4 separate regions of the Homo sapiens genome follow, and all the other regions are linked to region 1. The links come from fine-mapping of genetic effects on gene expression. A gene starts in region 1. Each other region holds a variant in brackets. All regions are shown on one strand. Distances are from middle to middle.

Region 1 (2,736 bases):
TGCAAAAGCAAGTCCAGTTCAGGGGGTTTAAAAAGCCAGAAACAGAAACTGTTAGGTCACTATCTGGAGAGGCCACCACCCCACCACTCTGCCTCCTGTTGGCATTGTCCCCATGGGAGCAAGCGTGCAAGCCTGGAATTGTCCAGGAAAGAAGTCCCAGTAGCACCCGGCCCTGCTGCCATGCCCTTTGTCATGTGCTGTCCCGGCCCTCCCCTCACCTCATTCATTCCTGGAATCCCTGCCCCTTGCTCCAGGGACTGTGCCCCTCCCATGATGTTCTGGGGTGGCCAGAACGTGGCTGCCTGGGCTCTGTGGAGCTGTGCCTCAGCATCCTGACAGCCGTATGTGGTCAGCATGGGTGGCCACACTCCCTCCCCTGGACCACCCGTGTTTGCATTGGGGTGAAAGAGGATGGGGTGTAATTACTTGATTACTTCTGGTCAGACTCTGTCCTCGGGGCCCCAAGCCACAGGGGAATGGATTCTCCCTGGGTAGTGGCCCCTGACTTTGCCCTCAAACCTTTAGAAAGTTTCCTGTGGGGCTTGGACTGCAGGACCCCATAAAAGCCACCACTGAGGGACACTGGGCCTTCATAGCCACAAAAGGTCTTTTGGTGCCAGCCGACAGTGGGCATGCGCCCCCCTGCCCCACGCCGCCCTTTCCTGGGTGCCAAGCTCTTTCCAAGCGACATTTGCGTCCATCTGGGCTGCCTCGTCCTAGCCTGGCTGCTCAAGCTCTAACTAAGGCAGCCTCTGGCCTCCCTCCCCAGGCCCAGGGCAGGAGCTGGCTGCTGGCCAGCGGTTGTCTTCTGGGTCGGTGGGGGTGGAGTCTGGCTGGTCTGTCCTCCACCCTTTCCGCCGCCTGGCAAGTCCTGAGCTGCACCTCATTGCCCGGCCAAAGGGCAGAGACACGAGCGACTGGGGGCACCTCTGGTGACCAAGACCGGGCTGCGCTCCAAAGAGGCCGTTGGGCCTGGAGTGGGGTTGGGGGGTCCGAGAGGAGTTGGGTGACATCCCCCACCCCATCCCGGGTCCAGCTGTTTCAGCCCCTCTCGGCGCGCCGATACTATTAGCCCCACCCGTCCTCCATCGAGTCCCGTGCCGCTCCCAAACGGCACGATAAGCCCCACAGGGAGTGCGCCATAGGCCGGGGCGCGTCACGGGGTCGGGGCGGGGCGGAGTCCGGACGTCGGGAGCAGGATGGCGGCGGAGCAGGACCCCGAGGCGCGCGCGGCGGCGCGGCCGCTGCTCACTGACCTCTACCAGGCCACCATGGCGTTGGGCTATTGGCGCGCGGGCCGGGCGCGGGACGCCGCCGAGTTCGAGCTCTTCTTCCGCCGCTGCCCGTTCGGCGGCGCCTTCGCCTTGGCCGCCGGCTTGCGCGACTGTGTGCGCTTCCTGCGCGCCTTCCGCCTGCGGGACGCCGGTAGTCCCCCGTCCGCGCGACGAGCCCCCCACGCCCGGCAGAAACCCCCACCTATGGCCGGTGGAAGTCCTTGTCCCCCCGTGGAACCCCCCATGTCCCACGACCGGTCTGTCCCCGCGCTGGTCTCAGCGCAGTTACCTCGTTTCCAGACGTGCAGTTCCTGGCCTCGGTGCTGCCCCCAGACACGGATCCTGCGTTCTTCGAGCACCTTCGGGCCCTCGACTGCTCCGAGGTGACGGTGCGAGCCCTGCCCGAGGGCTCCCTCGCCTTCCCCGGAGTGAGTAGGGGTAAGCGGGCGGCGCGGCGGCCACGGGGTGCTGGGCCGAGCGCGGAGCTGACTTCTCTCCCCGCAGGTGCCGCTCCTGCAGGTGTCCGGGCCGCTCCTGGTGGTGCAGCTGCTGGAGACACCGCTGCTCTGCCTGGTCAGCTACGCCAGGTGGGCTGCGGGCCACTGGCAGGGAGCGTGGGCATGGGATGGGCCCCCAGCGCCGGGGCTCCGTGCTGGACTGTGGCGGCGGGGCTGGCTGCCCAGGGGTCCCAGGACTGGCCTCCCGCCCCCACTCTTCAGGGTGTAAGGAGGGGCTGGGTGAGGGTGGAGCTCCCAGGTTGGAAGTTCCAGGCCCCAGGTAACCGCCGTCTTGGGTGGCCTAGTGATCCTCACCCTGGGACCCCCTGACTCTTGGCTCCCCACAGCCTGGTGGCCACCAACGCAGCGCGGCTTCGCTTGATCGCAGGGCCAGAGAAGCGGCTGCTAGAGATGGGCCTGAGGCGGGCTCAGGGCCCCGATGGGGGCCTGACAGCCTCCACCTACAGCTACCTGGGCGGTGAGTGTCTGGTGCGGGGCAAGGCAAGGGCCGGGAAGGAGGAGCCCCATCTTGGCCCGAGGTCCCCCAATCCCACCGCCTTCCTCCCCAGGCTTCGACAGCAGCAGCAACGTGCTAGCGGGCCAGCTGCGAGGTGTGCCGGTGGCCGGGACCCTGGCCCACTCCTTCGTCACTTCCTTTTCAGGCAGCGAGGTGCCCCCTGACCCGGTCAGTCCCTCCTCTAAACCCTGCTGTCTCCAGGCGACAGGCCCCAAGCCAGCCCTTGCCCTGGCGAGAGGTGTGCCACCCAGGCAGGTCACCCCAGTGCTGTCCCAGGAAGCTGGCACGGGCTGCATTACCTTTGCTCTCAAACTAGGGTGTCCCTGGCTGCTCCCAGGCCTCATCCTGCATTCCTGGCCCCCATTCTTCACCGACTCTGTTCCACAGATGTTGGCGCCAGCAGCTGGTGAGGGCCCTGGGGTGGACCTGGCGGCCAAAGCCCAGGTGT
Region 2 (2,736 bases), 180 kb after region 1:
TCAGCCCTGCCCAGCTCCAGTGCCCCTGACACCCCCAACCCTCACGGAGCCACAGCCAGCAGGATCACAGGGGGGCAGCCTGGAGCCAGGGCTCAATAGAGGTGGTGACATCAGACTGATGTCATCATTGTGTCCTGCGCTGTGTCCTGGCACGCCTCCAGTGACGCTCACCTCTGTGGCCTCTGCTTCCCCACCGAGGGAGGAGGTGGGTTCGGGAGGGGAGTGTGCAATTGAGGACTGCCTCCCGGAGGAGTAGTGGGCATTGGCTATGGCCCAGGGGTACGCCCTTGCCCCTCTGCGGTGGGGCTTGCATATCTCTGGGGTGCAGGCCAGGGCCCGCACCTCCCATCAAGAACCCTATAAATAAATAAGCTGGTCATATAAATAAACCACAGCCTGCCAGGCAGTCCTGACCCCAGGGCAGCTGCAGTGCCGGGCCAGGCTATCTCTTGCACCCAAGGCCTGCCCACACCCTCTGGGAAGAGTGAAGAAACTGCCAGACCCTCCCCACAGGCCCAGAGGAGGCTCCTAGAAGCCCTGGGCTCCCAGTACCCACAGCTGGGCCTGGGTGCTGAACCAAGGGGAACCCCGGGGAGCTGCTGGCTCCCTCCCCCACACCTGGCACCCAGTCCCACAAGGCCGGTGGCTGGACCCTGTCTGGGCTGCCTGGAGCCTAGCTGGCCTCCCACGAACCCTCCCGCCCAGGTGATAGGCAGCTGAGGCCCAAAGCCCCAGCTGAATGAGCTTGGTTGGGGTGGGAGAGCTAACAAATCAGCTCCAGGCTCCCCCAGCCCAAGCAGGAGTCCCCGGGTTCTGGTGCCCCCAGGGTTGGACTGTGATGGTGCTGGGACTGCCTTGCGCTGCCCTATTGGCCAGGGAGCCGCCTCCTCCCACACTTCCTCCCTGCTGTCCTTCTCGGAAGACGCCTGCCCCCACCCCGGAGTCTGGGTTGGGGGAGGCCACCCTCAGAGGCCTCCAGCCCAGACCAAGGAGGAAGAGGAAGACCCCAGGGTCCAAGATGGATGGGCCCCTGGGGCCTTGGCCCCGCCCCAGCCAGGCAGATGGGGAAGCAACTGTCAGCACCTAATGGGCCCTGTGACGAATAGGGCGGGGGTGCTGGCGGAGCTTCCGAATATCCCTGCAGAGTCCCCAAGGGCAGGGCAGTTCCGGCCCAGCATGGAACGATCAACACCGGGGTCTGGGGACCCGCAGGGCTCTGTCCCCTGCCCCTGAGTTCTTGGGTGGGTTCTGGGGGTCCTGGCAGGGAAGAGGCGGCAGTGGGAGATATCTGAGGTGGTCCCGGGCTGCC[C/T]CACGCCCCTCCCAGGCTCACCGAGGGGATGCTGAGCTCAGCGCTGGCTGGCTGAGGGCTTTAGGGACCATTAAAAATGCTCTCTGCCGGCCGCTGTGAGCTGTCCATTTGCTGCTGGCCTGTAGTTACTGCGGCCCCACCCCCACACATCCGCCCTCAAACCCTCACCCTCAGGGCCTCTCTGGCTTCCGCCACCCTTCCTGGGTGAGGGGCCCCTCCACCTGCCCAGCCAGAAGGATGCCCGCCCCTCGCCAGAGCCCCTTGGGGAGACCCCATGCTGAGCGAAGGTGGTGGGCACAGGACACATGCTGTGACCCCAGTGACCTAAGGCTCTGAGGCTCCGATTCACAGGGTGGGGACGGGGGCTGGGGAGGCGAGTGTTTCACGGGAACAGAGTCAGTTTGGGAAGATGGAAGATTCTGGAGGCACGAGGATGTGGGCGCGCTTCACACCACTCAGGTGCACCCTCAGAGATGGCTGAAATCGTAACACATTTTACCGTAATCACAATTTTAAGTAATCAAGCCGTCCTGTGGGGTCCTCTATGGAGGCCCAGCTCTGAGTGGGACACTGGGCTTGGGAGGTGACCGTTTCAGGACAGCCTGTCCTGGGGCTCACGAGGCCAGCCTAACCCTCCTGCCAGGGTCGGGGTGACTGAGGGAACCAGGGGACATATGGGTAGGTGGGCCCCTTCCATCACTGCCCCCTAGGAGGAACAGTGACAGTCCAGGAGGGGACAGTGGGAGGGTAGAGCACCCAAGGTTTGAGCAGAAGGGCATGGGCGGGGCCCTGCCGCCCAGCACCCTGTGGGAGTCCCTGGAGGGCAGGCCTGGCCCAGGCCAGACCCAGGAGGGCTCTGGGAAGAGCAGGGCTGGAGGCAGGCGCCACATACAGTCAGGGTCCAGCTCCTGGAACAGAGGAGTCAATGCTGGGGGTGCGGGGAGGGAGTTCCCTCGATGGCAGTGGAATCTGGGACCCTCAGGCCACTGGAGCTTCCCAGCCTGGCAGGCAGCCACTGCAGGCCTTCGCTGTCTGCGCCCGCCCTGCACTCCGCACCCTCGCTGGGTTGGCGTCCGGGACAGGGCAGGCCGGAGTGGGAGCACCCCCATGCGTGGGGCTCTGGTGTTGGCGGGAGGTCCTCAGGCCTGGGACCCTATCTTGGCAGTGGGATTTGGGGCTCAACAGAAGGAGCAATTCTGCCTCAGTCCAGTCACTGAGGGGCCTTAACTCCCTCCCTGGAGCCCCAGCAGGCGGCTTTGGGCTTCCCTGTCACACAGAGGCTGGGGATGCTGACCTGGCAGCGGGCAGAGTGAGGCCGCGGGAGGGCTGCCTGTAGAGACAGGGGCCACCGCCAGTCCAGGAGAGATTCAGAGGGCGTCTGGCTTGGCCCAGCCACGATCGACCCCGGGAGGCTCTTCCGAGGTGCA
Region 3 (2,736 bases), 180 kb after region 1:
TAAAAATTAGTTTGGTGTGGTGGCACTAGCCTGTAGTCCCAGCTACTCCGGAAGCTGAGGTGGGGGCCGACCGAGACTGAAAGGTGATCTCTGCCCCAGGGGTGGAGAGGGGGCACCCCCAGAACCTCCCACCTGCTTGAGGATCGCTGGAGTCCCAGGAGGTCAAGGCTGCAGGGAGCTGCGATTGCACCACGGCAGTCCAGCCTGGGCGACAGAGCGAGACCCTGTCTCAAAAACAAACCAAAACAAAAGGTCCTGAAATCATGCTGTTGACACTCAGTGTGGGGACAGGCCATGTGCAGGCCAGGACAGAGAGGGGTGAGTGAGCAGGAGAGAGATGGGGTGGGGGTGGAGACATGAATGGAGAGAGAGGGAGAGAAAGAGACAGAGCGAGACAGAGATAGAGAGTGCACGCCTGACTTCAGGACAGTGCAGCCCTCAGGCCACCATGACTGTGGGCAGTATCTACACTGTATCTACGCTGTCCAGGGTGACCAACCAGACCCGCGGCTGTGACCACAGCTGGTGATGACAAGCAAGAGGCAGCTGGGGTCAGGGGCAGGAGATTCCTGTTCTGTGGAAGGCAGGCAAGGGCGAACATCTGAAGCTGAAAGGAGAACGCTGTGAGGCCGGCAACGGAGAAGCACAGAGAGAAGGCGGGAGTGGCAAGAGGCACCGATGGCAGTGGCCGTGCAGATGGGGCAGCCTCGGCAGGACAGCTGGGCACAGCTTAGGACACTCAGCACACTCTCACCACACGGGGTCTGGGAGCGGACTCTCAGTGTTCACCCAGATGAGCAGAAACTGACCAACCCCCATGCGGATGTCAAGGCAGCTCTGTTCTTCAGAGCCAAGCCTGGAGCGGGGTTGGGAGATCAGCCCCAAACCTCCAGACAGGGGGATGTTACTCAGCACCACAGGGAAGGAGCTCTCCAGCCCGGAAAGACCAGCAGGAGCCTTCGAGGCACATTTCTAAGGGAAAGACGCCCTCTGAAAGGGCCACATGCTGTGAGTCCCACCAGAAGGCACTCTGGGAAAGGCAAAACCACAGGGAAAGGAAGAGTCTGCGGCTGCCAAGGTCGGGAGAAGGAGAGCTGGGGGCGCGGCAGGGGTGCTGAGGGTGGTGACGCCCCTCCGTGTGGTGCCACGACGGTGGAAACAGCAGTGTGCACCAGAACCCACGTGGCACACCTGGGGTGAGCCCCGGTGTCAGTGCAGACTTCGGGCGAGCCCTGCGGCTGATCAGTGATGCCAAACGGAGCACTGTGGGGCTAAGCGGGGAGCGGGGACAGGTCGAGGGCAAGGCCCGCGGCTCTGCACTTTCTGCTTACTTTTCTGTAAATTTTAAAATGCTCAACAAAAAAGTCTATAAATTCTACATACAAATGGAAACAGCAGAAAGACTTGCAAGCCAGGATG[C/T]CCCGCCCGCTGGGGGGGATGCCGGGAAGGGGGTGCTGAGGGGCTGGGATCCACCTGTCCCGAGGGTCTCCAACCCTCCTCCCAGCCCTGGGTCACAGGTGGGATGACGCTTGGGCTGTGGGCAAGAGCTCGCTGGATATGCCTCTCCTTTGTCTCTGTCTCTCTTCATCTACCTGTGTCTTCTCATCGCTCTCCCCCACACCGCCCTGTTTCTCCCACCCTGCCTCCCCTCCCCTCCCCTCTGCCCTCCCCTCCCCTCCCCTCCCCTCTGCCCTCCCTTCCCCTCCACTCCCCTCCCCATCTCTGGGCCGCCTCCCCTGACAAGCTGATCAATTGCTCATCACCGCTGGCAGGAGGTTCTAACTCAAGTGTGGCATCTTAATCAGCACCTCTGCTGTCCCAGGCCATTGACTGCCTGCTCCGGCCAACAAATGAGCCCATTGGCCAGGCCCCCTTTCCACCCGCCAGGCCTTGTATGCCTGCTGGGCTCTGCACGCCGTCTGGTGGCCGTAGGGTGCAGCACAGCCTGGGGTGTGGAGGGAAGGCCGGGGAGGGGAGGCTGGCAAGGTGTCCCTGAGGTCTACGCACTGGGCAGCTGGGAAGAGGCTCCAGCAGACACCCCCATCTCGAGCCCGCTGCTCACCCTGGACCCCCTTTTCCCACCTCCCACAGGACTGGCATGCCCTCTCACCCCTGCACAGCCTCCACTCACCCTGCACAGCCTCCTCTCGCCCCTGCACAGCCTCCTCTCACCCCTACACAGCCTCCTCTCACCCCTGCACAGCCTCCTCTCGGCCCTGCAGCCACTCACCCCTGCACAGGGGGCCACAGACCCAGCGCGCATACCATGCCCTTGCAGGTCCCCACCTTGCCTGCAAGCCCCTCCCCCCTTGCCGATGGATGCTGTGGCTGGACCCGCCCCCACCCAGCTGCACACCCAGGCCCTGGAGGGCAGGGGTCTTAGTCCACTGGGTCACAGCTGTTCCTCAGGGCCCTGCGCTTGGGGGACGCTCAGCAGGGCCCACTGCTGAATGAATGCACTGAGCTGTCCAAGAGCAGGAGAGCCCAGAGGTTCAAGACCGGAGTCTGGGCGCAGCCCAGGTGGGCACGGGCCTCAGCTTGGGGTGCCCGAGCTGCTCCTCTGAGGAGCATTCCCAGGTGTGTCTGTTGAGGTTATGAGGGTTCAAGGGACTCCTGGGAGTTGGGGTTCAGGGTCTTTCCTGGAGAGGGGTGTGGAGTGGTGTGGAGGATGTCGTGAGACAGAGGGAGAACAAGGCCCCCATGGACTATGCCCCAGGGCTGGAGGGGGCCTGGCAC
Region 4 (2,500 bases), 700 kb after region 1:
CAGCCTGAACTTCCTCCATGCCCTGGAGGTCATGTTCAAATCCACCGTCCAGCTCATGTTCATGCCCAGGAGCCTGTCTCGCTGGACCAGCCCCAAGGTGTGGAAGGAGCACTTTGAGGCCTGGGACTGCATCTTCCAGTACGGTGAGGCCAGGGACCCGGGCAGTGCTATGGGGAAGGGACACCATGGGGGCCCAATTTCTCCCTCTCCACCACCCAGTGGGGAATGGAGGCCACAGGGAGGGGTCGGGGATTCCTCACCTTCCTGCCAGGGAGATTGGTGCGAGGCTGGGGCTGGGCTGGGCTGATCCGGAGAATTTGGGATGAGAGCAGGGAGACTTGGGTGTCGGGGCAGTCTGGGCAGGAGGAGGACACTGAAGGATGTCTCCCAGCACCAAAGTCTGAGGGCTGCCTCCCGCTCCCCGGATAGGCGACAACTGTATCCAGAAAATCTATCAGGAACTGGCCTTCAGCCGCCCTCAACAGTACACCAGCATCGTGGCGGAGCTCCTGTTGAATGCGGAACTGTCGCCAGATGCCATCAAGGCCAACTCTATGGAACTCACTGCAGGGAGCGTGGACACGGTCAGGCCGGCAACCAGCCCCACCCAGAGAGGGTGATGCCAAGCCTGCCTCCCAGGCACTGCCTGCCAATGTCACACGGCGCCCACGTGTCCCATCCCCAGGCTATGGGCCCCACATTTCTTACTTGGGATTGTGATGTGATAAACACGTTTGCAGGTTGCCATGGTTGGAATGGGGGGTTCCTTTCTGTGGAGGACTCAGGGAAAGGGGTTTGGATGGGCATTAGGATTTGAAGTCTTGGGCTCTGTCGTTCTCAGGGTATGCATGTCTGCACCCCTCACAGGGAGGTTGTCCTGGGAGGGGTGTCCCGGGGGCTGAGTCCTCCTGTGCAAGGTCTGACCCTGCAGCTGTGTCTCCTGCAGACGGTGTTTCCCTTGCTGATGACGCTCTTTGAGCTGGCTCGGAACCCCAACGTGCAGCAGGCCCTGCGCCAGGAGAGCCTGGCCGCCGCAGCCAGCATCAGTGAACATCCCCAGAAGGCAACCACCGAGCTGCCCTTGCTGCGTGCGGCCCTCAAGGAGACCTTGCGGTGGGTGCTGGCTGAGGCCTCCCTGTGGCCCTGGCCCCCTGCTGGAGA[G/A]CAGCCCCCACTGGGTGGTGGCAGACAGAATCTGGGGCTGATAAACAGCGTCACCCAGCAGCCCATTCCCCTGCACCTGCTCTTCCTCCCCCTCAAGGACAGGGAGCTCTTCTTTCTCTGGAATCCCTCTTCAACGCCCTGGGGATTAACGTGGAGCATGTCCTTCTGCGCTCGGGGCTGCTTAAGTTAGGGGAGGTTTGGCCGGGCTCAGCAGGTGCAAGGAAGCACTTCCTACGACCTGGGCTTCCCATGGATCTGGGACCTCTGCGGGTTCTTCGGTAGGAAGGGTGCAGAGAGCACAGGAAGCCCCATCCAGCTGAGGACCCTTTCTATGGATGCCCCCACCTCCAGGCTCTACCCTGTGGGTCTGTTTCTGGAGCGAGTGGCGAGCTCAGACTTGGTGCTTCAGAACTACCACATCCCAGCTGGGGTGAGTGAGCCCCACACCCCTCGAGCTGAGAACCTCCCTCCCCAGTCATTCCCTGATCCCCGCTCTGCACCGTCCGCAGACATTGGTGCGCGTGTTCCTCTACTCTCTGGGTCGCAACCCCGCCTTGTTCCCGAGGCCTGAGCGCTATAACCCCCAGCGCTGGCTAGACATCAGGGGCTCCGGCAGGAACTTCTACCACGTGCCCTTTGGCTTTGGCATGCGCCAGTGCCTTGGGCGGCGCCTGGCAGAGGCAGAGATGCTGCTGCTGCTGCACCATGTGAGCAGGCCCGGGCTGGGGAGGGGCCTGGGCGGGGTCTGGGCAGCATGGGCGGGGCTTGAGCAATGTGGGACTGGCCTCGGCAGAGTGGGAGTGGCCTGCATGTTTCCTGGACTGGGCAGAGCCGGTACTGGGAGAACCTGGGCCAGGTTGAGGCTGTGTAGGTCCTGGGCAGGAGTTGGTATGGTGAGGAGCGTACCATCTGGGTGAGGTTGCTGCTAAACCGGGTCAGGTGGGAACTGGGGAAGTCGGGTGGAGCCTGTACAGGATAGTGGGGCTTGGGCAATACCTGGGCTGGATGAATTCTGGGCCTGGGCTGTAAGGTGGGGCTGGTCAGGAATGAAACAGGTTGGAGGCCAGGCTGCTGTTCCCCCTTCAGCATAATCTCTGCAACTTTGAGGGTCTGAGAAGGCTGCACCACGTGCATGGGCTGCGGACCAAGCCAGATGGAAACCCGGCTTCTGTCCTAGGTGCTGAAACACCTCCAGGTGGAGACACTAACCCAAGAGGACATAAAGATGGTCTACAGCTTCATATTGAGGCCCAGCATGTTCCCCCTCCTCACCTTCAGAGCCATCAACTAATCACGTCTCTGCACCCAGGGTCCCAGCCTGGCCACCAGCCTCCCTTTC

The links. PIP is the estimated chance that this variant, and not a neighbour inherited with it, causes the effect.
Region 2: its variant is fine-mapped to the expression of NAPRT in whole blood (INTERVAL, PIP above 0.99).
Region 3: its variant is fine-mapped to the expression of NAPRT in fibroblasts (GTEx, PIP 0.98).
Region 4: its variant is fine-mapped to the expression of NAPRT in aorta (GTEx, PIP 0.98).

The regions. Positions count from the first base shown.
Region 1 is chr8:143,576,782-143,579,517 of GRCh38, reverse strand. NAPRT (nicotinate phosphoribosyltransferase) reads left to right here and starts at 1,188. Exons shown (of 13, transcript NM_145201.6): 1 at 1,188-1,425; 2 at 1,575-1,702; 3 at 1,779-1,861; 4 at 2,119-2,249; 5 at 2,341-2,456; 6 at 2,676-2,736. The coding sequence starts at 1,200. RefSeq lists enhancers at 1-872, 873-1,780.
Region 2 is chr8:143,396,602-143,399,337 of GRCh38, reverse strand. No RefSeq gene overlaps it. Among named protein-coding and RNA genes, the nearest start is that of MAFA-AS1, 10 kb to the left of the region's middle. The variant C/T (reference allele first, on the strand shown) is at 1,310.
Region 3 is chr8:143,400,527-143,403,262 of GRCh38, reverse strand. No RefSeq gene overlaps it. Among named protein-coding and RNA genes, the nearest start is that of MAFA-AS1, 6.3 kb to the left of the region's middle. RefSeq lists enhancers at 170-816, 817-1,464, 1,465-2,112, 2,113-2,736 and a silencer at 1,790-1,966. The variant C/T (reference allele first, on the strand shown) is at 1,420.
Region 4 is chr8:142,874,325-142,876,824 of GRCh38, reverse strand. CYP11B1 (cytochrome P450 family 11 subfamily B member 1) reads left to right here. Exons shown (of 9, transcript NM_000497.4): 4 at 1-143; 5 at 430-584; 6 at 947-1,113; 7 at 1,513-1,591; 8 at 1,671-1,868; 9 at 2,339-2,500. The coding sequence ends at 2,452. Among named protein-coding and RNA genes, the nearest start is that of CYP11B1, 4.2 kb to the left of the region's middle. The variant G/A (reference allele first, on the strand shown) is at 1,162.